7 linked regions of the Homo sapiens genome follow. The protein of the gene in region 1 purifies or fractionates together with the protein of each later gene. This does not show direct contact. Each region holds a gene or a part of one and is shown in the gene's direction. Other genes may lie near its edges.

Region 1 (3,500 bases):
ACATTTCTGTACTTTAAAAATTCTACAGTAAAGCAGCAGTGAACTTGGTTGACAACTCCAGTCTGACTTGATAGTCTGTAGCGGCACAAAAAAGTACGCTTCAGTGTACTTCTTAGTCAAATCTAGCAGTTTATAGTAGGAACAGCAAAACTGGTGGTTCCCCGTAGGAATCACATCGATAATGTTTAACTCATGTTAACACTGTGCTCAGCCATTTAGACTAACTTGGAGAAATATTTGTTGACTAAAATTGTCTTTCTGAGTTTAAATTTGATTATTTGTAGTGCAAAACATCTGTGTAGGGGTAAAAGGTTTTATATATATATATATATATATTTGTTTGGTTCAGAAGACTTGACAGTTATAAGACATTTTAAACTCTAGTCATGTAACTAGTCATACCTGTTGGAGGCATATGATTGCAAATTATAAAAATAAACTTTAAGTAATGCTTTTGATGCAAATAAATTATTTAGCTACAGAAAATAAATCAGAACAAAGTGGAATACTTTATTCCACCACCAGCAGCTCTAGCTGGAGTCTGTACTACTCCCTGTTTAACATATAGGCACTCTGCTGGGTGACTAAGGTGGATTTGGTCCCATGTGTTAATTTCCTAATAGCTATCAATAACCAGTTGAGGAGATTTGTGAGAGTGAAGCTTTTGTTTATCAGCATTCATACTTCTGAATACTTTGAGGTGCTAGAGTAATAATAGCTAGCAATCGTAAAATAAATGAAAATATTGGAAGGACCTAGTGGTTTTTTTGTTGTTGTTGTTAAAGAAGTAAAAGAATAGTAAACTTAAAGCATTTGTGTTTTGAGATGGGGTCTCCTTGTGTTGCCCAGGCTGGTCTTGAATTCCTGGGCTCGAGCAGTCCTCCCAAGTAGCTGGAATTACATGTCAATGCCCCCACACCCACATTCTGAACATTTTATTTTTAAGTGAGGGATAGCTACATATTTTTTTTTTTTTTACCAGCAGGAAGTCATATATAATTCTCTTCACAGACTTTCTTTCCTCTGAATTCTTATTAATAGAATCTTACTTAGTGCAGCCTCTCCCAAATATTGTCATGGTTAGTTTATTCCCAGGTTTCTGTTCAGTTAAACTATTTGATTAAAATGTCAAAGTAGATGAAACAAATCATAGTCTCTCAGTTCCTCAATTTTCTACTCTGTAAAATAGGATTAACATCCTTTTAAGGGAATTGTTCTGTGGCTTGTTATGTGTAATAATGTTTTTAAATGCTTTTAAAACTTTTATTCTGGGCATATAGCAATTTTTGAGCCTGTATTTCTTAAAATGTCATCTGAACAAGATTCACATACTTTTCAGATTATACAACTTTTGGGAAAAGACTAAATCTACAGAAGTAATATTTTCACCTTGTTTCTTTAAGATAACTACTTATCGTTCTCCCTTCTATATTTCATAGTGATCAAGTTGTTCCTGCAGCACAGTCTTCACCTATAAACTGTGAGAAGAGAGAAAACTTGTTACCATTTGTGGGACTGAATAATCTCGGCAATACTTGCTATCTTAATAGTATACTTCAGGTAAATTGACAATTTTGCTATATCATAAAGCTTTAGTAGGCAAAGATTGATGTAGCATTTAATGTTTTTGAGTTATTGGAGGACTTTAATGTCCATACTGTCTTTGCCTTTGATTGTTAATAAACCAGAATAGGCTAAAATAATAAGTTACATGTTATTAAACTTCCTTTGGGGTAAGAGAAAATGATAGACTAAATAAAGGTGGGATAGCAAAATTGAGTAGACCTTAAGTGGAAGGTCAAACCTTTAATTTCTTTCTCTGATTCCTGGTGCTACAGTGTGATATATGTCTTATCCCTTGGAAGTAACGTTGGCATTGTGTTGTGTGTCCGTTGGCGCTGTGTTGTGTGTCCTTGTAACCTTAAAGTCTTAGCAATATCTGCCCAGGTGCAGTGCTTTGTGCTAATGAGGGAAGACACTGGGCTACTACTGATGAAGTGGAGAACAAATTTTGACACAAAACTTAATCTCAGAATTTTAGGGTAATACATGTTAAAAGTGCTCTATAGAAAGCATGATGTTGTTTTAATGATTTTACGTGTATTGTTTGTTCAGTAAACACTTAAGACAATCTCACTTTTTATAGGTATTATATTTTTGTCCCGGTTTTAAATCTGGAGTAAAGCACTTATTTAATATTATTTCAAGGAAGAAAGAAGCTCTAAAGGATGAAGCCAATCAAAAAGACAAGGTAAGAAAAATAAAGAACAGAAAATAATGTAAAAAGCAAAAGTAAATTAATGGAAATTTACTTGCCTGGAAATGAAGAGGACTGGGGGGGTGGATGACAAAGATTATTTCTCTGTTAGCGAGCTATTGTCAGGCAATTATTTTTCATTCTTTCAAGGTGGCTAACTAGATAATTCCCTTTTACAATGTTTGCTCCTGTAATCTGTGTATCAAACTTTTGTTACTTGTATACTATATATTACTGTATACTATAATCACAATATGTTATACCCATGTACAACTTATTTACCCATTGTGTTTTCAAATTGAGTTAAAATTTAAATACAGTGTATTTAAAGAAATCTTTAACTTCCATAATTAAAAAACCATTGTAATTCACATAAATAGTAATTCATAATTCCTCTTAAAATTACAAAAAAGACCAGACGTGGTGGCTCATGCCTGTAATCCCAGCAGTTTGGGAGGTCAAGGTGGGTGGTGGATTGCTTGAGCGCAAGAGTTTGAGACCAGCCTGGGTAACATGGCAAGACCCTGTCTTTACTAAAAATACAAAAACTAGTAGGGCGTCATGGTGTGAGCCTGTAGTTCCAGCTAATTGGGAGGCTGAGGTGGAGGATTGCTTGAGCCCAGGAGGTTGAGGCTCCAGTGAGCCGCGATCAAGCCACTGCACTCCAGCCTGGGCGACAGAGACCCTGTCTCAAAATAAAAAAATAAAAAATAAGGCTTATTTGTACATCCCTTAAAATTAGTGCTATTATGCAACTTAGAAAATCTAGTATTCTTAAGTGAGACAAAGACAAAGGGGGAAGGTACTTAATTTGTTCATAAAATTATTGGTTTGTGTGTTTCTTTCTTGACAGGGAAATTGCAAAGAAGATTCTTTGGCAAGTTATGAATTGATATGCAGTTTACAGTCCTTAATCATTTCGGTTGAACAGCTCCAGGCTAGTTTTCTCTTAAATCCAGAGAAATATACTGATGAACTTGCCACTCAGCCAAGGCGACTGCTTAACACACTGAGGTATAGCCTATAATATAATTTTAGGGTTTCAATTTAGCTACTTGTTTATATCCTTGGAGGAGAATGACATGCGAAGAAACAGGAATAAAGGGCAAGGAAAGTAGAAACTCTAGGTCCACAGTCCTTTATATCCCAGAGACTCTGAATACTGGAAATTTTTTTCATAAATTTGGTGCTAAATTCGTTAGATCTGAACATATTATATGAGGCTTTTTATAGTCATTCATAT
Region 2 (3,500 bases), on another chromosome or scaffold:
TTGGTTACCTGGTAAGAATAGTTTGTGACCTATGCTTTTATTACTATTTTTATTTTTTTGAGACGGAGTCTCACTCTGTCCCCCAGGCTGGAGTGCAGTGGTGCCATCTTGGCTCACAGCAACCTCCGCCTCCCGGGTTCAAGCAATTCTTCTGTCTCAGCCTCCTGAGTAGCTGAGACTATAGGCACACACCACCATGCCCGGCTAATTTTTGTATTTTTAGTAGAGATAGGGTTTCACCATATTGGTCGGGCTGGTCTCGAACTCCTGACCTCAGGTGATCCACCCGCCTCAGCCTCCCAAAGTGCTGGGATCACAGGCATGAGCCACCATAGCTGGCCTGCTTTTAGTCCAAAGGAACAGGGGTTGGGGGAAGTTCCCAGGGCTTGAGAGGTCTTGAAGCCAAACAGGGGTTCCAGGGACACTAGGGTGCCCACTCTGGCATTTTCTCTCCTTCCCTTCAATTCACAGACTCTGGTGGAGCAACGTTCAGGTGGTTCAGGAAAGGGCAGCAATAAGGTGAGATCTGGACAGAGGACTCGAGGCAGGGGGAGCTTGCCAAAGAGCCTTCTGATGACTATGTCTTTGGCTGTCCCAGGGGCCACTAGGTGTGACAGAGGAACTGCACATCATCAGCTTCACGGTCAAATATACCTACCAGGGTCTGAAGCAGGAGCTGAAAGTGAGTGAAAATGGAGGGCAAGGAGAGAGAAAGCAGCTTTGGAAGAAGGCATAAGAAGGGGATAAACAGAAGCCTCTTGGGGTGGGTTAGCACTCCTTTCCTCTAACAAATACCTGCAGCTAGAAACATCACATCCCTCTCTGTGACTCCTGTCTTCTCCCCAGACGGACACCCTCCCTGTGGTGATTATTTCCAACATGAACCAGCTCTCAATTGCCTGGGCTTCAGTTCTCTGGTTCAATTTGCTCAGCCCAAACCTTCAGGTAGGGGAGTGGGGCCGACAGGTCAAGGCGCGAGAGGAGGGGTGTGGAAGCTTGGTGTGATAGGTTGCTTCTGAGCCAGCCTACACTGCTCCCACCCCTGCAGAACCAGCAGTTCTTCTCCAACCCCCCCAAGGCCCCCTGGAGCTTGCTGGGCCCTGCTCTCAGTTGGCAGTTCTCCTCCTATGTTGGCCGAGGCCTCAACTCAGACCAGCTGAGCATGCTGAGAAACAAGCTGTTCGGTACAGATTTCCTTTTCTCTCAGCCTTTCCCCAGCCTTAGTCTTTTCTGTCCCTCTGTCCTATCTATCCCAGGACCCCTGGCTTCCCTCATCATCTGTCTGTGGCTATCTGTCCCACAGGGCAGAACTGTAGGACTGAGGATCCATTATTGTCCTGGGCTGACTTCACTAAGGTAACTCCCTGAATCCTGTGGAGCTGCTGGATCTAGCCCACATTCCAAATACTGGCCTTCCCACGTCCCTCCTTCCCTACACCAGAGGCAACTCCTCAGCTTTTGCTACCTTTCCATTCCTCCTCCAGCGAGAGAGCCCTCCTGGCAAGTTACCATTCTGGACATGGCTGGACAAAATTCTGGAGTTGGTACATGACCACCTGAAGGATCTCTGGAATGATGGGTAAGGCCTTGGTCACCCTTCCCTCATGGGCTTGTGCTTTCCGGGCTTGAGAGTGGAGTCTCTGCACCCTCACGTGGCAAGCAGGGAGAGAGAGCAAAGACAGGTGCAGGCCACGTCTCCTCACATTTGTTAACAATAATAAGGCCGGGTGTGGTGGCTCACACCTGTAATCCCAGCACTTTGGGAGGCCGAGGCGGGCGGATCATGAGGTCAGGAGATCGAGACCATCCTGGCTAACACGGTGAAACCCCGTCTCTACTAAAAATACAAAAAATTAGCCGGGCGTGGTGGCAGACACCTGTAGTCCCAGCTACTCAGGAGGCTGAGGCAGGAAAATGGCGTGAACCTGGGAGATGGAGCTTGCAGTGAGCCGAGATTGCGTCACTGCCCTCCAGCCTGGGTGACGAGCAAGACTCCGTCTCAAAAAAAAAAAAAAAAAAACAACCAATAATAGCCATAAACAGTGTTTGTGAAGCATCTCCTACATTCCAGAGCTTGATGGGTGCTCTTCATTAATTCTCTCATCTCATCCTTACAACCATGCTGAGTGGTGGGTTTTGCCAGCTTCATTTCATGTGAGGAAACTGAGTTTCAGAGAAGTTAAAGAACTTACCCAAGGGACACAGTTGATATTCAAATCCAGGCCTATGTGACTCCAAGCCCATGCTCTTTCCACCACACTGCCTACCAACTTGTGTAGCATTTGGCTTTTAAAAGTGCTATTCATGACCAGGCACGATGGCTCACGCCTGTAATCCCAGCATTTTGGGAGGCCGAGGTGGGTGGATCACCTGAGGTCAGGAGTTTGAGACCAGCCTGGCCAACATGGCGAAACCCCATCTCTATTAAAAATACAAAAATTAGCCGGGTGTGGTGGTGGGCGCCTGTAATCCCAGCTACTCAGGAGGCTGAGGCAGGAGAATCGCTTGAACCCAGGAGAGAAGGTTACAGTGAGCCAAGATCGTGCCATTGCACTCCAGCCTGGGTGACAGAGCAAGACTCTGTCTCAAAACAAAACCAAAAAAAAGTGCTATTTGTGGCCAGGCGTGGTTGCTCATGCCTGTAATCCTAGCATTTTGGGAGGCTGAGGAGTACAGATCACTTGAGCCCAGGAGTTCAAAACTACCCTGGGCCACGTGGTGAAACCCCGTCTCTACGAAAAATACAAAAGTTAGCCAGGCATGGTGGTGTGCACCTGTGGTCCCAGCTACTCTGGAGGCTGAGAGGTGGGAAGATTGCTTGAGCCCGGGAGGTCGAGGTGGCAGTGAGCTGTGATCATGCCACTATTCTCCAGCCTGGGTGACAGAATGACACCCTGTCTCCCAGAAAAAAAAAAAAGTGCTGTTCATCTGTGTGATCTCACTGAATCTTCGTACTTCAAACCCTCGGAAGGTGGCTATTGTCAGCAAAGTGAAGTGACTTGTAAAAGATAAAAAAAAGCTAAGTGGCAGGGCTTGGTCCAAAGCCTGGATTCCAAACCTGGGCTGTTTCTCCATACAAGGGGAGCAGGGAGGCAGGGGCCTGGTGGGGCAGGGTGTTGGGCGGTGTCTCACAGCTGCTCTCTGTGCTCCAGACGCATCATGGGCTTTGTGAGTCGGAGCCAGGAGCGCCGGCTGCTGAAGAAGACCATGTCTGGCACCTTTCTACTGCGCTTCAGTGAATCGTCAGAAGGGGGCATTACCTGCTCCTGGGTGGAGCACCAGGATGATGGTCAGCTGCTCTGCCCTGCCATTCCCACAGCCTCTCCTTTCTGCCTGGCTCCCCTCTTGCCCCTCTGCCTGCCCTTGGCTTCCCTGGCTCTGAACTGAATCCCTCAGCTGGTTTGGGACTGGGCAGCCAGAGCAGAGAGCTCCAAGGCCCGGCCTCTTCCCTCAAGCCCGCCTGTTCCTGCATTCACTCTCCAGACAAGGTGCTCATCTAC
Region 3 (3,500 bases), on another chromosome or scaffold:
TAGGTTCTCTTCAGAGTCTTCTGCATTGACTGTCATAATTACTGCCTTTGATATGTTTGTAGAGACTTCATGCTACCCATAACTTGATGGAATTGTTGATAGCCAGGCACCCAGGGATACCACCTACCTTGCGTGATGGCCGACTTGAGGAAGAGGTAATTATTTTTTTCATTCTGTCTATAAAAGTATATTTTCTTCAAACTTTATGCTCCATATAGTTGATATATCCTAGGACATACAACATACAAATAAATGTAATCATGTTTTCCTGTTACTTTGATGTTTCGAATTTTGTTGTGATTTTGGGTAGCAGAGAATGGCAGCAGTACGTATTATTTGGCTTCTCTGCTGATCTACCTGCAGTTATGTGATAAATGCTTGTTGTAGATATGGCTGTTGGTAGCCAACAGAATGGGATGTAAATAAATGAGTTTTAAAAAAGAAACTTTGATCTCATGGCAGATCTACAAAAGAGGTAGCTTAGTAAATATACAAACTTTTGCACTTTCTCCACATTTCTGTGTATTTTTTAAGGGGGTAAATAAAGTCAAATTTTTGGTGGTAGTTCTCCCAAAGAAGTTTCCTCTACAAAAAGTGTCGCCTCTTTTTGAAAAGAATGACATCGAAAAGAGTGATATTATAAATTATTTTACTATAAATTGTTAATAGCTTATTATGCAGATTCTTCCAGGGATTTTTGCTGTTGTTAAACATTAAAGAGCTAAAATCAAAAGAGTAGGTATGTTTGAAATGTATTGAACCTGTAAGTGGAGGCTTTATTTGAGTCAACAGGATAAAAAATGAGATTATATAAATAAGCACAGCCTTTTTGCACTGGTTGTTTTGGGGGCGGAGGTGCCCTGGTAAACTATTTTAATTAACAAAAATTTTATCTATTCATGAGTAGAGACTGATGTTTTGATGTATGTAGACACTAGAATAGCTAAATCAAACTAAATCAATTACCTCTTTATTTTTATTGCATGCATGTGTGTGTGTGTGTGTGTGTGTGTGTGTAGTGAGAACATTTAAAATCTACTTTCTTAGGGCTTCAGCATATGAATTTTGGGGAAACAAAATTCAGTTCCTAACACCTGTGTTACTGTGTATTCTCAAGGATTATTTTTAAACTGCAGTAACTAAGGAATTTTAATAACTAAATTAGCCAAATTTTAGAAAGGTGTCTTTGCTTTGCCTATCATTTGAAATATTACTGTTCTTTTTTTCCCCTCTTTGCTTATTCTAACTAAAAAAAAAAATTAAATAAGAAATTGGCAAACAAATATTCGGTGTTTCTGAAATTTTGTTACTTGGACAAGTAAATTTTGTTAACTTCCATATATAAGGAATTTTTAGCGTGACTTTTATGTTCTCTACAGTATACTTGGACTTTTATGTTTAAATGCAGTTAAGTAGCTTTAAATGTATAAAATGACCCATTCTTCTTGAAACATCATACTGAATTATATTCTAGATTGGGAGTGAAAGTTTATATTCTCTGTTTCAACACAGGCCAAACAGCTGCGAGAGCACTACATGAGCAAGTGTAATACAGAAGTTGCTGAAGCCCAGCAAGCTTTATATCCTGTGCAGCAGACCATCCATGAGCTTCAAAGAAAGGTATGCCAAAATGCAGTGTTTCTTACTTGTATTTGCCTCCAGATATCATTTTGAGTTTTGGTTTTTTGGTGGGGAGAAACTTGAATTTCTTATACATTTTGAAATCCTTAGCACCTAGCACATTGCCTGACCCACAATACAAGTTTATTTTACTGTTAGCAATGATTTATTGGTTGAGTGAACAGATGCATAAATAAGTCAACTATTTTGAGTTCTCTTTCTTTTGAACTCATGGGTTTTCTCTTACCATGAGTATATAACAGTTGTCTTTTGAAGAAAGTAAAGACTTCTATAACCTCCTTTTTATCTTGTTTCTGAGATGTTTTAAAATGTTAATACATTAGAACCACAGGTATTTTTCCTGCAGAATATATACCACTTGTCATTTCTAAAATTTCAGTTTTATGAAATCAGCAGCAAAATCTAAAGAGGTTACACAAATACACTTTTATTTTCAGTTTTTAAATCAGGTGTTGCAAATTTTTGTCTTTCTAATTCATTCATTATTTAGTATTCTGGGATATAATTTTGTGAGTTATTGTGGATTATTCATTAAGTAGAATCTGGTTCAGTTAGTTAAAGATTAGAATGAAGGCTTTCTTTCTTATGCTGATAAAGAGACCTGTGACCTTTTCACACATATAGATTGAGTATTGAATTTTCATTTGGCGTAAACAGTTTTTTTAGTTACAGCTTTGTTATATAAATGCATTCAATAAATTCCCATTTATCCAGAGTAGTTAGGAAATAGGGGTTTCTCTTTAATTATATTTTCAAAAGAGGAAGCGAGCATTGTACATGGAATATGTATACTCGTCTCCCCTCTGTGATAGTCCCTTTGAGAATAGCATTTATTACTTTCTTTGAATTTTGGCATCACCCTGCCCAGTGATGGAAGCTTAGTGAGTACTAAAAAAAATGTATTAATTGATTAACTGCTACCTTTTTTACAGATTCATTCTAATTCTCCTTGGTGGCTAAATGTGATCCACAGAGCAATAGAATTTACTATTGATGAGGAGCTAGTTCAGCGAGTGCGAAATGAAATAACCAGCAACTACAAGCAACAAACTGGCAAGCTTTCTATGTCAGAGAAGTAAGAAAACAGGAAGAAAAAGTATCTACTCATAATTTTAAAAGCAAAGAAATCCTTGTATTTTCTAGTTTCTAATTTCTCATTATTACCGGCTTTTTTTCTCCATTCATAAACCTATACAGACACATTCATACTTCTTTTTTGCAGCCTTTTTTATTCACAGTTTATCAAAATGGTTATAGGTACTATAATTGGGTTTAACTCCTAACTGCGACCTACCTTTGTTACTTTAGTTACTTTAATATTTTACACTTCATAATGTGAGCACATTAGTAACTATTGAAATTATACAGGAAAAGTGCTTGGCAAAGTGCCTCGTATATAGTGCATAATTACAGATTTAATTAAGTATATATACATATATATATATATTCAACCAAGGAATATAACTCTTAGCCATTTTTCTTCTTTCTTCCCAATATTCTGCTTTTATGTTTCATCCTGCAGGCACCTCCTCATATAGAGCAAGGATGTCAGGAAGGCTATCTGTAGTCAGGCTTAAAACGGAAGAATGTGGCAGTCGTACACTTTCAAAGATATCTGAGACAGACATACATTTTTCATGCTCTTTTTCAGTTCCTGAGCACAGGACTATCAAATTTTTTTGGTATCTTTTACGGTAGACAGCCCAATATTATACTTTGAATACATTCTGAAGGAAAACTCACTCAAATGTTGCTGTTAAAAAAAAAAAAAACAGCAAACAGTTTCTTTAACACTTTGTTTGGCAACCATTCTCTGAATTTGAGGAAATTGACCTATTATTCTTTTCTTTGTATTGTGT
Region 4 (3,500 bases), on another chromosome or scaffold:
AAACGCCATCAAGCACGTACTGGGTTTACCAAACACTTCCTACGCTTCTGTTCCCACACAGATGAAACATGACAGTCCTTTTTTTTTTTTTCTTGAGACAGAGTTTCACTCTTGTTGCTCAGGCTGGAGTGCAATGGCATGATCTCAGGTCACCACAACCTTCGCCTCTAGGGTTCAAGCGATTCTCCTGCTTCAGCCTCCTGAGTAGCTGGGATCACAGGCATGCACCACCACACCCAGCTAATTTTGTATTTTTAGTAGAGACGGGGTTTCTCCATATTGGTCAGGCTGGTCTCGAACTCCCGACCTCAGGTGATCCGCCTGCCTTGGCTTCCCAAAGTGCTGGGATTTTTTTTTTTTTTTTGAGATGGAGTTTCGCTCTTGTTGCCCAGGCTGGAGTACAATGGTATGATCTTGGCTCATTGCAACCTCCACCCTCCCAGGTTCAAGCAATTCTCCTGCCTCAGCTTCCCAAGTAGCTGGGATAATAGGCACCCACCACCACGCCTGGCTAATTTTTGTATTTTTAGTAGAGATGGGGTTTCACCATGTTGGCCAGGCTGGTCTCGAACTCCTGACCTCACACCTGAGGTGATCTGCCCGCCTTGGCCTCCTAAAGTGCTGGGATTACAGGCATGAGGACCGCGTCCAGGCGACAGTCCTTGTTCTTAAAGGAGATTATAGGCCAGGTGTGGTGGCTTACACCTGTAATCCCAGCACTTTGGGAGGTGGAGGCAGGTGGGTGATCACCTTAGGTCAGGAGTTCGAGACCAGCCTGGCCAACATGGTGAAACCCCATCTCTACTAAAAATACAGAAAATTAGCCAGGTGTGGTGGTGGGTGCCTGTAATCCCAGCTACTTGGGAGGCTGAGGCAGGAGAATCGCTTGAATCCAGGAGGTGGAGGTTGCAGTGAGCCGAGATCACGCCATTGCACTCCAGCCTTGGGGACAGAGTGAGACTCTGTCTCAAAAAAAAAAAAAAAAAAGAAAGAAAAAAAATTAAAGGAGCTTACAGCTGTTGGGGAGAAAACTGATGATAAATTATGAAATAAGCCGAATCATTTCAGAGCTTAAGTCCAGGAAGGGACATCACTGGTGGTATGGGAGTAACCTGTATTAGATACTATGTCAGGGAAGGCTTGAGTGAAAGTCGATAAAGAAAATCAGCCATTATTGTCCAGGTGGAAACGTCCTAGTCCTCCCATTGGCAGCTTTCCTGCTGTTTCTGCCCAAGTAGTGCAGGTGCCTGGCCAGTGGAGGGGAAGGGAGGGAAGAAGAGTCCCTTTATGTTGGCCTTGGTGTGACGGCTGTCACCCTGTGCCCCTCAGGAGCTGGTTTGAGGGCCAAGGGCTGGCCGGGAAGCTACGGGCCATCCAGACGGTGTCCTGCCTCCTGCAGGGCCCATGTGACGCTGGCAACCGGGCCTTGGAGCTGAGCGGTGTCATGGAGAGTGTGATTGCTCTGTGTGCCTCTGAGCAGGAGGAGGAGCAGCTGGTGGCCGTGGAGGCTCTGATCCATGCAGCCGGCAAGGCTAAGCGGGCCTCATTCATCACTGCCAATGGTGTCTCGCTGCTGAAGGACCTATATAAGTGCAGCGAGAAGGACAGCATCCGCATCCGGGCGCTAGTGGTGAGACGGTGGGCCTGGGGTGGGTGGGCAGGCAGCCAGGCAGGGGTCCTGGTCCAGCCGGTGTTGCAGGGTGTGGCCCCAGCACACTCCAGATGAAAATAAGGAATACTGTAATGCCAAAAAAATTAGCTAGGCTTGGTGGTGCATGCCTATAGGTCCAGCTACTTGGGAGGCTGAGGCAGGAGGATCACTTGAGCTCAGGAGGTTGAGGCTGTGGTGAGTCACGCATGTCACTGCACTCCTGCCTGGGCAACACAGCAAGACCCTCTCTAAAATAAATGGATGAATGAACGAGATTCTGGGCTTTCTTGTGGTGAGAGACATCGGCATGGCTCCTCCCTCCATGGGGCTTAAGACTGGGCCTGCAGGGGTCATGCAGTGTTCCTGGGAGCTGGTGGTTTGGGGGTTTGGGGACTACCTGGCCCTCCATGAGCCTGTTGTGGCTGTGCACCCTGTGGAAGCTGGTCTTCCTCCCTGGGGCACTCAGTCCTGGATTTCTCCATCCCATAAGGATTTGGCTGTGGCTGAAGCACCTGTCCTCTCCCCACATGCCTCTCAACTCCACCTGCAGAGGGCTTCTTTGTGCGACATGGAAGGAAACAGAGCCATTCTCAGTGTGGCCTGGGAAGGGGTGGGGCCCACGACTGTCCAGCGGCCAGCGCATCAGTGTCTGCAGATGCTGTGTCATGCGGCCACCCCAGTAGCTGATTTTCTTGCCACATGCTCTAGGTGGTGGTCTGGAGGGAGAGGGTGCTGATTTGTCTGTGTAGCTTCCAGGGGGCCATGGCAGAGTGCCAGGGAGGGAGTCCAAGCCAGGTGTGGAGGAGCTCAGCTCCTGCCTCCTTCCCCAGAGGCCAACTGGTCTTGCCCTCTTCCTCCAGGGACTCTGTAAGCTCGGTTCGGCTGGAGGGACTGACTTCAGCATGAAGCAGTTTGCTGAAGGCTCCACTCTCAAACTGGCTAAGCAGTGTCGAAAGTGAGTCATCTGGCCTTGCTGTGGTTCCCCACCTGTGGGGTAGATCTCAAGACACAGGGGTCTGGGTGGGGGTTGGGGCCTCCTCCGTCCTGCTCTCTGGCTCAGGCAGGGGCTGCAGTCTGGATCCTGGTACGTGAACTGCTTCTGTACATTGAGGGGATGCCCAAACCCTTGGTTTTTCCCCCTTGGCCTTGGTGTACCCCTCCGTACCCCCAATCCTGAGGGTCGTCCACTATCCTGCGTGTCCCCAGGTGGCTGTGCAATGACCAGATCGACGCAGGCACTCGGCGCTGGGCAGTGGAGGGCCTGGCTTACCTGACCTTTGATGCCGACGTGAAGGAAGAGTTTGTGGAGGATGCGGCTGCTCTGAAAGCTCTGTTCCAGCTCAGCAGGGTAGCTCTGTGGTTCCTGCCGTCAGCCTGGGGACACTGTCTAGGATTAGACCTTACCAGGCTTTCTCGGCAGGGCTTGGCCAATGGGGTCTTTTGACCCCAGGGAAGAGGGCTGGTGGCTGAGTGGCTGCTCTGTGTAGTGTGGGCATGTTGGCCAGCACCAGTGGTGTTAGCAAGGACGTTCTTCTTGGAGGAGCTGGGGAGGTCAAGTTTGTAAGCTCCCAAAGTCTGGGGCCTGGGAGTTTCCCGAATTCATCCTGTACCCAAGGGTCCCAGCTGAGGGTGGAATTGGGGGCCTGGGCCTGGGCAGCATTTATCTGAGTACTGCTCTGCCCCGGGATGCCCATGTGAATTCCTCTGTGTCCTGGCAGTTGGAGGAGAGGTCAGTGCTCTTTGCGGTGGCCTCAGCGCTGGTGAACTGCACCAACAGCTATGACTACGAGGAGCCCGACCCCAAGATGGTGGAGCTGGCCAAGTATGCCAAGCAGCATGTGCCCGAGCA
Region 5 (3,500 bases), on another chromosome or scaffold:
GTAACTCGGTATTTATAATTTAAGTAAGAAAATGTGGAATTCCAAAGTTGGTTCACATCACCAGAACATTTCATGCAGATCAAAGAACTTGATGACATTTCCTTAGGCTGCTTAAATTGTAGCCAAAGCTTTTGTATGTATGTTTGACAGTCATTTGGCTAAGGAGTACTTCACTTGCTCTTGAAAATAGTTACTGTAAACTCATCTTTGACATAGTTGGAAATCCTGGCGCTTAAAGTTTGGTCACATGACATAGCTTTTGCCAGTGTTGTAGTATGTACTGGGGTTTCTAGTATCTTCAATTTCATTCTGGAAAGAGCCTGAGATATCTGAGCTGTCTGTTCAGGAACATGTCAGGACTGTTAAATGTGGCATATAGAAATTGCCAAGTAGATTATATTTTTTAAAGCTGTTGGAGCATCTTTCAGCCTCAAGTATTGCTATTTCATATTTAATATTCTTCCTCGTCTGTTTCAGTATGACTTTTCTACCAAGTGGAAAAGATAAGGTAGGCTTGCTGAGTTAGAAGCCCTGGGTTCCAATCTCTACTTGGGACCTTGCCCCTGAGGCGCAAGGGTCAGGCTATGTGGGACCCCCTCCCTTTTGCATTGTTGCATGGTTTTAACATCATTAACTTGGAACAAAAACACATTATAGAGTATGGTTTTTAAGAAATAATTTTGTTTGGGGAAGAAAATTCAAATTGACAAATGGCAGTTAAAATTTGGATTCTTTTGCAGTTATGGTACTTGCTATTCATGCAAATCAGTATCCACCCAGGGTGCTCCTGTTTGACATTGCCAGTGGATTTGATAAGATCTTATGAACCATGCCATCTCTTCTAGTTTCCTCTGAGTTGACTGGAAACAAAACTTGCCATCTGGACTGACAGATTGTAGAGGAAAAGTATTTAATCCCATTTTCCATTAAAAAAAAGTTAAGCAGAAAATATTTTATTTACCTAGATGTTTTTTTAGTATCATCTGCAGAAGTGATTTCTAAGTAGCTGGATGATTATTTTTTTGGTGCTGAGTTTGGGGAGCAGCGCACAAAATTGGCCTCCTCTGCACTGTTAGCAGAAATTGTGAATTTGGAATCATTGTGGGTTTTTATTGTTTAGGTAGGGGAGAGTGTGATTGGAGGGGGCAGGGATTGGAGCCATGTAAGGGCTGTTAGTAAACAAGACCCGGAGGCAGCCCTGGCCGAGGATGGTACAGAATGCCGCTTAGAGAACAAGAAAGTTTTGTGTGTCGTGGCAGGGGGAGGGCAGGGAGTTGGAGACCACACGTCCCCAGAATCTCAGGGCTCTGGGAGCACTCAGGCTGCATTGGCCAGAACTATCCCTGCCCTGGTGACTGGGAGTTGCAGGCTGGAAGGCAGCTCCTCATTCTTCATGATTTAAGCATGAGTTATCTCATACTCACTTTACATTTTATTTGAGAAATTGCTATTTAGAATGCTAAGACTGTGTGTGGTTTAATGCCAGCTTTGCATTTACAGCTTGAGGCTGAAATCGATTGCCCTTCATAGTAAGGAGATCCTCTGGCCATGTGGATACATTTTTATCAGATTTTGGTCAGAATGTCTAAGAGCAAGGGTCACCGGAGGTTTGTTCCTTAGAGAGTGCCAGGAATGGTGGTGAAGTAGTCATCGTGTCGTGCTTTGCTGTGGTGTGACATTTACAGGTTTCAAGGCACTTTTACCTATGGCCTCTACAGGGAGGGTGGGGAGTTGTTCCCATTTTACAGATGAGGAAATAGTCAAAGAGCACATAAGTGAATTGTCCAGATCAGGTAGCAAGTTGATGATAGAGTTGGAACCAGAAATTAATTCCAGAAACTCATTGGTTACAGGACCCACCATGCATGGTTGCCAGATGAGCTCTTGCCCTTCCGGGAGCTCACAGTTTAGTAAGAATGGACAGAGAGTACTGGGCACGTGTCAGCACAGCGATATGAACAAAATACCAAGGGCTAGCTGCCGCAGGAATTCTTTAGTATGCATTTTAAAGTTTTTTAAAATGTTAAGTTCACTGGGGGAGTTCCAAGAAATGCTTTTAGAAAGTGATGTTTGATGTGGGTCTTAAAGGGTACATAGTCATTAGAGGAGGGTAAGGAAGGCCTTCAAAGCTGGAGGAACAACTAGGCATGTGAAAGAACATCCAGTAACAGCTTGGCCACATCACAGTGTGGGACTTGGAGTGTCAGAGTTCGAAGCTGGAAAGATAAATTGGAACCAGCTTGTCTTATAAAAGCCTTTTCATGTCACGTGAAGCAATTTGGAACTGACACTGGAAGATGTGGGGGAACCTTTGGCCTTTTAATGAAGGGAGTGACAGGATCAAATGTGTTTTTTTAGAACTCTTGTCAGCACTTGTGGAAGGTGGATTGGAATGAAGAAAGACAGAATGAAGGTAGCAAGACCAGTGAGGAGGCTCTAGTAACTGTCCAGGTGAGAGCTGAGGGCTTGAACTAGAGTTGCGGCCATTGTTTCATTCATTCAGGACCTTGACTACCTACCACATGCCCAGCACTGGGTCTGCAGCAGTGGGCAAAACCTGCCCTCCTGTGACCCCTCTCAGGAGGGAAGAGAGGTATAATAGCACCACCCCCGAAACACTGGTGACCACAGATGGTGACACTTTGTGATGTAAGAGGCAAGAGAGCAGGCCCAAGAAAGGGAGAGAATCACAGAGGTCTACTTTATTTATTTATTTATTTATTTATTTATTTATTTATTTATTTATTTATGAGACAGAGTCTTACTCTGTCACCCAGGCTGGAGTGCAGTGGCGCAATCTTGGCTCACTGCAACCTTCACCTCCCAGGTTCAAGCTATTCTTGTGCCTCACCCACCCAAGTACCTGGGATTATAGGCCACCTGACTAATTTTTGTATTTTTAGTAGAGACGGGATTTCACCATGTTGGCCAGGCTAGTCTGGAACTCCTGGCTTCAAGTGATCCACCCACCTCAGCTTCCCAAAGTGCTGGAATTACAGGCGTGAGCCACCACGCCTGGCCAACACAGAGGTCTACTTTAAACTGGGAGGCAGAGGACATCTCTCGGACGAAGTGCTATGTTTTAAGCTGTGCCTCATGTGAGAAGAAGGCCAACCAGGTAAGGAACTGGAGATGGAGCTTTCCTGCAAAAGGAATAGCACATGAGGGCCCTTGAGCCCAAGGAAACTGAAAGAAGGACGGTTTACCTGGGGAAGGTGGCATGAAGTAAGGGCATGAGATTGGAGGGCCACATCACCTACGGCCTGATCCAGATTTGTTTCTTAGCCTGAAGTACGGGATTCCTTAGAAGGGAGCAGGTGCACAAGGCAGGCAGATTGGTGTTTTTGAAAGGTACCCTGGCTGCTTTTTGGAGACTGAATTGGAAAGGTGTATTAATAAATCAGGTTTCTGGGTGTCTCTTGCTGTGTTGGGTGAGACTGGGAAAGGAGCAGTTGTCAGGGAATGGAGGGGAAGATCAGAGGTTCTGGTCTGTACTTGCT
Region 6 (3,500 bases), on another chromosome or scaffold:
AATCTTTAGAGTCAATTCCTAGAAGTGGGACTGTTGGGTCAAAGGGTTTATTGTACTTTTAAATGTATATTTTAATGATTTACATCAGTTTCTTTACTTCGAATAATAATTGGGTAAGCGAATGATCTCTTTAGTTTTAGGATCTCTAAATTTATCAATCCACTATTGTGTGTGTGCAGAGAGGGTTATCATACCAAAATGATCCAATCTATTACAAGATAGAAAGTAGTAAACACCATGAAGGATTAGGACATAGTGTTCAGGATGTCTGGAAGAGAGAGAAGCCCCAGCTACTGAGTCAGGGAGCTCTCTAGAAAAGAAGGAGCCATTTAAGCTTGACTTTAAAGAGTGGGTAGAACATGGAACTATGGAGAAGCTCAGAACGTGTAGTTTAGGCAAAGGCAATAATGATGGCTGAGGCACTGCTGGGATGCTTGGAAAGAGGGTGGGGCGACCAAGTTTAGATGAGAGTGTGTCCTGACGAGAGTGGGTCCTGGATGTTTAGGCTGTATTTTAACCCTGCTTCTTCTACCTTAGTTCAGTGTGGCTCAAAATGATCAGAATGAAGAATTCAGAAAGCTTGAGAGGCTTTCTGAGTTATGGCTTCTGTGCTTGCTTTTGGGATTCGGTGCTCTGCCTGTGGTTCTCCCAGGACAAATATTAGTACCAGGGAGATCTAGTGGAAACCAGGAGTCCAGACATCTATTGTCCAACCCTGACCTTGCTACCAATCCACTCTGACCTTGTTGATGGTCACGTGAACGCAGGAACCATGGCTGGAATATGTTGCTTCTCTATCTGTGACTATTACAGTGCCTACCTTTCACACAGGAGGGGTCCTGCCTCCAGCTTCCTCTGTGGCATCAGACAAGTCACTTTCTCTCCCTGTACTGGGGTTCCTGGTCTCTGCAGTAAAGGAGATACTGTAGATGGTCTCTAAGCCCATAATTGTACTTTCTCAGATTCTGTGAAAATAGGAGAGATGTATGCACTGTACAAATGGACATTTTTTGTTATCCATGTTCTCAGAGTGCCAAGGGGACTCCCCTCTTTATGCTTCTCAAAGACCCTTACATCCTGGTGGCTGCAGGTAAGCTGGCGATGACCTCCCATTGGGCGGGGAGTGTCTGGGCTTCAAGCAGCCACGGCTGCTCACAGAACAGTCTCCCCAGGGTCCATCTGCTTTGCCAACATGGGGGTGGCCATCCTGGAGCCCACACTGCCCATCTGGATGATGCAGACCATGTGCTCCCCCAAGTGGCAGCTGGGTAAGTGACCTCAGCACCCCCGCTCAGGGCCTGGCAGGAGGAGGTGGGTGCCATGAGTCCTTTCGTTCAATGTCACACAGGGACAACATGCTTCCTTTGTAGAATGACCTCCCACGTCCACACCCATGAATCAAGCCCAAGAGGGTGTGTGGTCCCTCAGAGAAGCAGTCTGAGAAAGGGGAGGGTGAGAGAGGATGAAAGGGGCTATGGAGAGGTCACATACCTAGCTGTGTAGTAGGATGATTAATGATTTCCAGTCCAAAGATTCAGGTTTTGGTTTCAGCTCCTTTGATTTTCTGTGAAAACTTGTGCAGATGCCTTAAACCCTCTGAGCATCACTTTTCTCATTGCTAAAATGAGCATCAAAATACTATCTAGTTCAAGAGAAATTGGATGAATAAATGACATATGAGGTGAAAATGCTTTGTACCCTGTACAATATTAATGTGCACCATTACCATCCACATTCTCCTCCCTTCAGCTCCTCATCCTCAAGACTACCCTTTGGTTATCTTTTTTACCTCTAAAAAGGGGTGTATGTAGCACTCACTTAGGAAAAGCTATGGGCCCAGGAGAGAGGGTTCCAGCTTCCTTTGTTCATGCAGCGACTTAGAGAGGAGCTTGGAGAGGAGGATCTAGCCCTTCCCAGGAACCCTGAGGAAAGAGGACAGGGAAGGCTACGTGCAAATTGCTCCATCACTGCAGGGAGGAGAGGCTTACGGGGCCAGAGGGGAAGCTGATAAGAACATGATATAGTTCAGCATGCAATAAAAAGCACTAAATCTAATTTTGGGGGGGCAATTCTAAGCAAGACTCCCAGCTGCACTCCTAGTGCCAAATTGAATTTTTATGGGTTGCAAGTGCTTTTGACCATGACGATTAATTGAGTTAGTCGGTATTCAGTGCAGATAATTCATCGCCTGCCCTAAGGCTCTGACCACTCAGGGTCTCGATACTAGTGAGCAGCTACAACACAGAGCAGCTCCTCCCCAGCAGCCTAGGGACCATTCTCAGTTGCCAGTTACCAATTACTCAGTTACCAGTCACTCAGTTGCCACCATCTTTTACAGCTTTCTCAATGCTATCTGGTCTGTAAAGTCTGACATCAAAGGTTGTCCAACAACTACATCAGAATCACCTAGAGAGCTTGTTAAAACTCTGATTGCTGGGAGACAGTAGGCAATTTAGTCAAAACAAGTTTTCATCCCTAGTAAGTCTGCAGGTGATGCTAATATAGCTGGTCAGTGATCACACCTAGAAAATCGCTGCTGTACATGAAGAGCATCCCTCAAAGGTGTTGGGAGCCAAAGGAGTCCATGCTTTTGAAAGTAATGTGTAGTCTGCCTCTGAGTGCTTGCTATGTGGCCCACCATATACTAGGTAGCATCACCAAGGGGAGGAAATAGCCCAGGTCCACCTGGGTTTGAATGCTGACCACGTCACTTACTGATTGTGACCTCGGATAAGTTATTTAACCTCTTTGACCTCTGATATGGTGTGAATGTGTCCCCCAAAATTTATATGTTGCAAATTGAATCCCCAGTGCAACAGTCTTGAGAAGTGGGACCTTTGAGAGATGATGAGATCATGGGAGCACCCTCATGAATGGATTAAGGCCATTATCATGGGAGTGAGTTTGTCATAATAAAAGGGGAGTTCAGCTCCCTTTACATCTCTCTCATGTGTGCTCTCTCTCCATGTGACCCCCTTTGGCCATGTTATGATCCAGCAACCAGGCACTCCCCAGGTGGCCAAACAGACACTAGAGGCTTGCCTTTGAACTTCTTAACCTCCAGAACCCTGAGCCAAATAAATCTCTTTCATTGATAAATCATGCACTCTGGTATTCTGTTATATTATAGCAGCAGAAAATGGACTAAGACAGAAAATGGGTAATGAGAAACCGGGCTGCTGCTATAACAAATACTTGAAAATATGGAAGCAGCTTTGGAACTGGAAAATTGGTAGAGGCTGCAATAATTTGGAGGAGCAGGCTAGAAAGAGCCTGTATTGCTGTGGTTAAGGCATTAAGGGTGATTCTGGTGAGGGCTCAGAAGAAGAGGAGAGCTATAGAGAAAGTCTGAATCTTTTTAGACATTGGTTAAGAGGTTGTGACCAGAATGTTGATAGAAATATGGACAGTGAAGGTCATTCTGACGAGGTCTCAGATAGAAATGAGGAACAAGGTATTGGACACTAGAGTAAAGGCCATCCTTGTTATACAGTTACAAA
Region 7 (3,500 bases), on another chromosome or scaffold:
GGGTGGATCATGAGGTCAGGAGATCGAGACCATCCTGGCTAACAAGGTGAAACCCCGTCTCTACTAAAAATACAAAAAAAATTAGCCGGGCGCGGTGGCGGGCGCCTGTAGTCCCAGCTACTCGGGAGGCTGAGGCAGGAGAATGGCGTGAACCCGGGAAGCGGAGCTTGCAGTGAGCCGAGATTGCGCCACTGCAGTCCGCAGTCCCGCCTGGGCGACAGAGCGAGACTCCGTCTCAAAAAAAAAAAAAAAAAAAAAAAACCAGGAGTTTGAGGCTGCAGGTACTCACTCCAGCCTGGGTAACAGAGTGAGACCCTGTCTCTAATTGAATGAATGAGTGAGTAAATGAATGAATGAATGAATGAATATTTTTAAAAAGAAAAATACAGACTGTATATTTTTATTTTTATTTATTATTATTATTATTTGAGATGGAGTCTTGCTTTGTTGCCCAGGCTGGAATGCAGTGGCGTGGTCTCGGCTTACTGCAACCTCTGACCTCTGCCTCCTGGGTTCCAGAGGCTGAGGTAACAGGTGCCCTCTACCACACCTGGCTTTTTTTTATTTTTACTTTTTTTGTATTTTTAGTAGAGACGGGGTTTCACCATGTTGGTCAGGCTGGCGAACTCCTGACCTCGTGGTCCACCCACCTCTGCCTCCCAAATTGCTGGGATTACAGGCATGAGCCAATGCGCCTGGCCCATATTTTTATTTTTATAGGATTAACCAAACAATCCACAACAAACTAAATTGACAGTGATAAAGCTAAAGTAAGATTATTTTCTTCATTCATTCAGCAAACATTTGTTGATTACCTACTGTGCAACAGGTGATAACAACATCTGCCTTCACAGAGCTCATGATCTAATGGAATTCAAAAGCAAGAATAGTAGTTGACTATTACAGGATCAACTTAAGATAACACTAATGGTTTTTCAAAATGTTCTATGGGATATTCTTAGATTACTTTTAAATGCCTGCCCTGTGCATGATCTGAAGTTTTGTCTCAGTCAAAATTAGGTTGTAGGCCGAGTGTGGTGGCTCACGCCTATAATCCCAGCACTTTGGGCAGCCTAGTAGGGAGGATCACTTGAGCTCAGGAGTTCAAGACCAGCCTAGGCAAAGTAACGAGACTCTTGTCTCTACAAAAAAATTTTAAAAATTAGTCAGGCATGGTGGTGTGTGCCTGTAGTCCCAGCTACTTATGGGGCTGAGGTGGGAGGATTGCCTGAGCCCAGGAGGTGGAGGTTGCAGTGAGGCCTGATTGTACCACTGCACTCCCACCAACAGAGAGAGACCCTGTCTCAAATAAGATAAAATAAAATAAAAATCTGGTTGTTAGGGGAATTGTATTGGTATTAGAATTTAGGTGAAAATAGGTCCAAAGAACTCATGAATAAATGATTCATTTCTCAAACTACTTAGGTAGAATAATAAAACATGGAATGTCAAAAGTTAAATGAGCACTTTCCCCTCTGTCAAAATAATCAGTTTTCATAGGAATTAGGTTTTTAGCCAAATGGCTGTGAGGCAAGTTGAAGTAAGACAAGAAAATTGCAAATATTTTTAGATGAAAATATTTACTTTCAGCAGATTTTGAGACAGTCTTGCTCCGTTGCCCAGCCTGCAGTACAGTAGAGCGATCTCAGCTCATTGCAACCACCTCCTCCTGGATTCAAGCAATTCTTGTGCCTCAGCCTCCCAAGTAGCTGGGATTTACAGGCATGTGCCACCATGCCCTGCTAATTTTTGTATTTTTAGTAGAGACAGAGTTTCACCATGTTGGCCAGGCTGGTCTCGAACTGCTGGCCTCAAGTGAGCCACCTGCCTCGGCCTCCCAAAGTGCTGGGATTGCAGGCATGAGCCACCACACTTGGCCTTTCAGCAGCATATTGACTGACAACAACAACAAAAATTTATGAAGGGAGCGATCCAACTTATAGACCATGTGCCATTTTAAAAGCTTCTTTATAGCCAAGATTTCTTCTCGATATCAAATTAAGAAATTTAACAGCTATGCTTTCTGAAGACTGTTTCCATAGAGCTTCCAAGTGGTAGTAAACTTTTAAATCAGGATTTGGCTATGTGCTCAACTCAGAAGACTGTCATTAGCAATAGCAGTAGGTACCACTGAGTGCCACTGCGGACTCAAGTAGACAAAAAAGAAGAAAGAAAAGCAATCAAGGGGGAAAGGTAGATATAGTGAAGTGGTAGAATCTTGCTATATGTTGCCTCTAGGTATAAATCTAGAACTAACTACTCCTGAAAATGGAGGTAGTAGGAGGTGGGAAATAATTTTTCATTTTGCTTGGGAAATTTGGTTTGTAAACCTAAAATAGCCCTTATTTCTGGGGAAAAAAAAAAAGATGTTTAAAGTCCAGTCTAAAAGAGAATTGTGTCCATGTGTCAACTTGTCATATTCAAGTTTTCTAATTAATTTAGTTTTCTTTTAATTTAGAAAAGCAAAATTTATTAATCACTGGGTGGTATTTTCTAATGAGAAGCTTGAACTTAGTTTAAGAAAGAAGTGCTCTGACAATCTCATAGTCCTTAAGAAGTTCTGAGACTATATTGTCAGATAGCTAAATGCTAAGAGGAGAGTGTAGTTTGTAATTGAGTAGCTTTATCCTCCTGGAGATTTTTAAGCTGTATCCTATAATATACTCTTGGTCAGGTTGGGTAGTATGATTCAAGGCACTTGGAACCGTCTTGGGGAATATAGCTTGGTAATTGAACTGCTTAAGCTTATTATTAATATTTAAGCTATAGTTCCAGGCCCATTCCAGAGGTCCCCCAGCCAATGCACTTCATAAAAGGGAAGATATATCTTAATATACCAGGTTTGTATCTCATGCTACCATTGTAGCATCAAAAAAATAGACATTTAAATCATGGCTAATAACAAATTTTAGAATGAAATAGTTGGTAAATTTTGTGATTTTAAACTTTTCTTTTTGTGTGTGTGTATATGCAGCAATGAAAACTACTGGATGTAATTTAGATAAGGTAAATATTATCCCTAATGCCCTGATGACTCCACTCATACCAAGCAGTATGATTAAGAGTGAAGATGTTACTCCAATGGAAGTAACAGCAGAAAAAAGATCTTCCACTATTTTTAAGGTAAGCTGTATTGACTAGTGCACAAACCTCCTATATAAAAATTGCTGTCTTTTACTTTTCCTATTTTTTTAACATTATTTTTACTTTGGATGCACTTAATGAATTTTGCTGTAAAGAGGGAATGCTTTATACTTCAGCAAAATTGCCCACATAGTGACTTCCAATATACAAGGGAGGAATTAATATGTTGTATGAGATATTGATGAAAGTACTAATTTTAGCATTTTCAGAATTAGAGATGTTTTTATTTTTTTCCCAGTCTTTTCCCATAACTTTCTGTTTCTTTTTTTTACTTGTCTTATCCCCTGTAATGTTACTGAGGAGCCACAAAATTGAGATATTTTGATACCTGCTCTTCATGAACCATAAAATTACTG

Evidence for each region.
Region 2: the proteins of USP1 (region 1) and STAT2 purify together in Homo sapiens (affinity purification with mass spectrometry; 2 studies listed by BioGRID and IntAct, with this or other methods). This does not show direct contact.
Region 3: the proteins of USP1 (region 1) and SHPRH purify together in Homo sapiens (affinity purification with western blotting; one study listed by BioGRID). This does not show direct contact.
Region 4: the proteins of USP1 (region 1) and UNC45A fractionate together in Homo sapiens (co-fractionation; one large-scale study listed by BioGRID). This does not show direct contact.
Region 5: the proteins of USP1 (region 1) and WDR20 purify together in Homo sapiens (affinity purification with mass spectrometry, with the first as the bait; one large-scale study listed by BioGRID). This does not show direct contact.
Region 6: the proteins of USP1 (region 1) and SLC18A1 purify together in Homo sapiens (co-immunoprecipitation; one large-scale study listed by IntAct). This does not show direct contact.
Region 7: the proteins of USP1 (region 1) and NFAT5 purify together in Homo sapiens (affinity purification with western blotting; one study listed by BioGRID). This does not show direct contact.

What each region holds. Positions count from the first base shown.
Region 1 is NC_000001.11:62,440,049-62,443,548, forward strand, and holds part of USP1 (ubiquitin carboxyl-terminal hydrolase 1), read left to right. Parts: intron 1-1,439; coding exon 1,440-1,560; intron 1,561-2,146; coding exon 2,147-2,251; intron 2,252-3,110; coding exon 3,111-3,271; intron 3,272-3,500. UniProt on the Homo sapiens protein: Negative regulator of DNA damage repair which specifically deubiquitinates monoubiquitinated FANCD2. Also involved in PCNA-mediated translesion synthesis (TLS) by deubiquitinating monoubiquitinated PCNA.
Region 2 is NC_000012.12:56,346,608-56,350,107, reverse strand, and holds part of STAT2 (signal transducer and activator of transcription 2), read left to right. Parts: coding exon 1-11; intron 12-471; coding exon 472-519; intron 520-598; coding exon 599-682; coding exon of another isoform or gene 683-736; exon of another isoform or gene 737-763; intron 764-846; coding exon 847-945; intron 946-1,024; coding exon of another isoform or gene 1,025-1,048; coding exon 1,049-1,184; intron 1,185-1,256; coding exon of another isoform or gene 1,257-1,303; coding exon 1,304-1,356; intron 1,357-1,484; coding exon 1,485-1,579; intron 1,580-2,905; coding exon of another isoform or gene 2,906-2,936; exon of another isoform or gene 2,937-3,123; intron 3,124-3,152; coding exon 3,153-3,289; intron 3,290-3,483; coding exon 3,484-3,500. UniProt on the Homo sapiens protein: Signal transducer and activator of transcription that mediates signaling by type I interferons (IFN-alpha and IFN-beta).
Region 3 is NC_000006.12:145,922,859-145,926,358, reverse strand, and holds part of SHPRH (E3 ubiquitin-protein ligase SHPRH), read left to right. Parts: intron 1-62; coding exon 63-155; intron 156-1,512; coding exon 1,513-1,620; intron 1,621-2,573; coding exon 2,574-2,716; intron 2,717-3,500. UniProt on the Homo sapiens protein: E3 ubiquitin-protein ligase involved in DNA repair.
Region 4 is NC_000015.10:90,945,285-90,948,784, forward strand, and holds part of UNC45A (protein unc-45 homolog A), read left to right. Parts: intron 1-1,329; coding exon 1,330-1,630; intron 1,631-2,511; coding exon 2,512-2,606; intron 2,607-2,857; coding exon 2,858-2,999; intron 3,000-3,369; coding exon 3,370-3,500.
Region 5 is NC_000014.9:102,195,397-102,198,896, forward strand, and holds part of WDR20 (WD repeat-containing protein 20), read left to right. Parts: exon of another isoform or gene 1-477; coding exon of another isoform or gene 478-508; intron 509-2,358; coding exon of another isoform or gene 2,359-2,451; intron 2,452-3,500. UniProt on the Homo sapiens protein: Regulator of deubiquitinating complexes. Activates deubiquitinating activity of complexes containing USP12. Anchors at the base of the ubiquitin-contacting loop of USP12 and remotely modulates the catalytic center of the enzyme.
Region 6 is NC_000008.11:20,162,637-20,166,136, reverse strand, and holds part of SLC18A1 (chromaffin granule amine transporter), read left to right. Parts: intron 1-1,029; coding exon 1,030-1,090; intron 1,091-1,172; coding exon 1,173-1,268; intron 1,269-3,500.
Region 7 is NC_000016.10:69,687,966-69,691,465, forward strand, and holds part of NFAT5 (nuclear factor of activated T-cells 5), read left to right. Parts: intron 1-2,974; coding exon 2,975-3,123; intron 3,124-3,500. UniProt on the Homo sapiens protein: Transcription factor involved, among others, in the transcriptional regulation of osmoprotective and inflammatory genes. Binds the DNA consensus sequence 5'-[ACT][AG]TGGAAA[CAT]A[TA][ATC][CA][ATG][GT][GAC][CG][CT]-3'.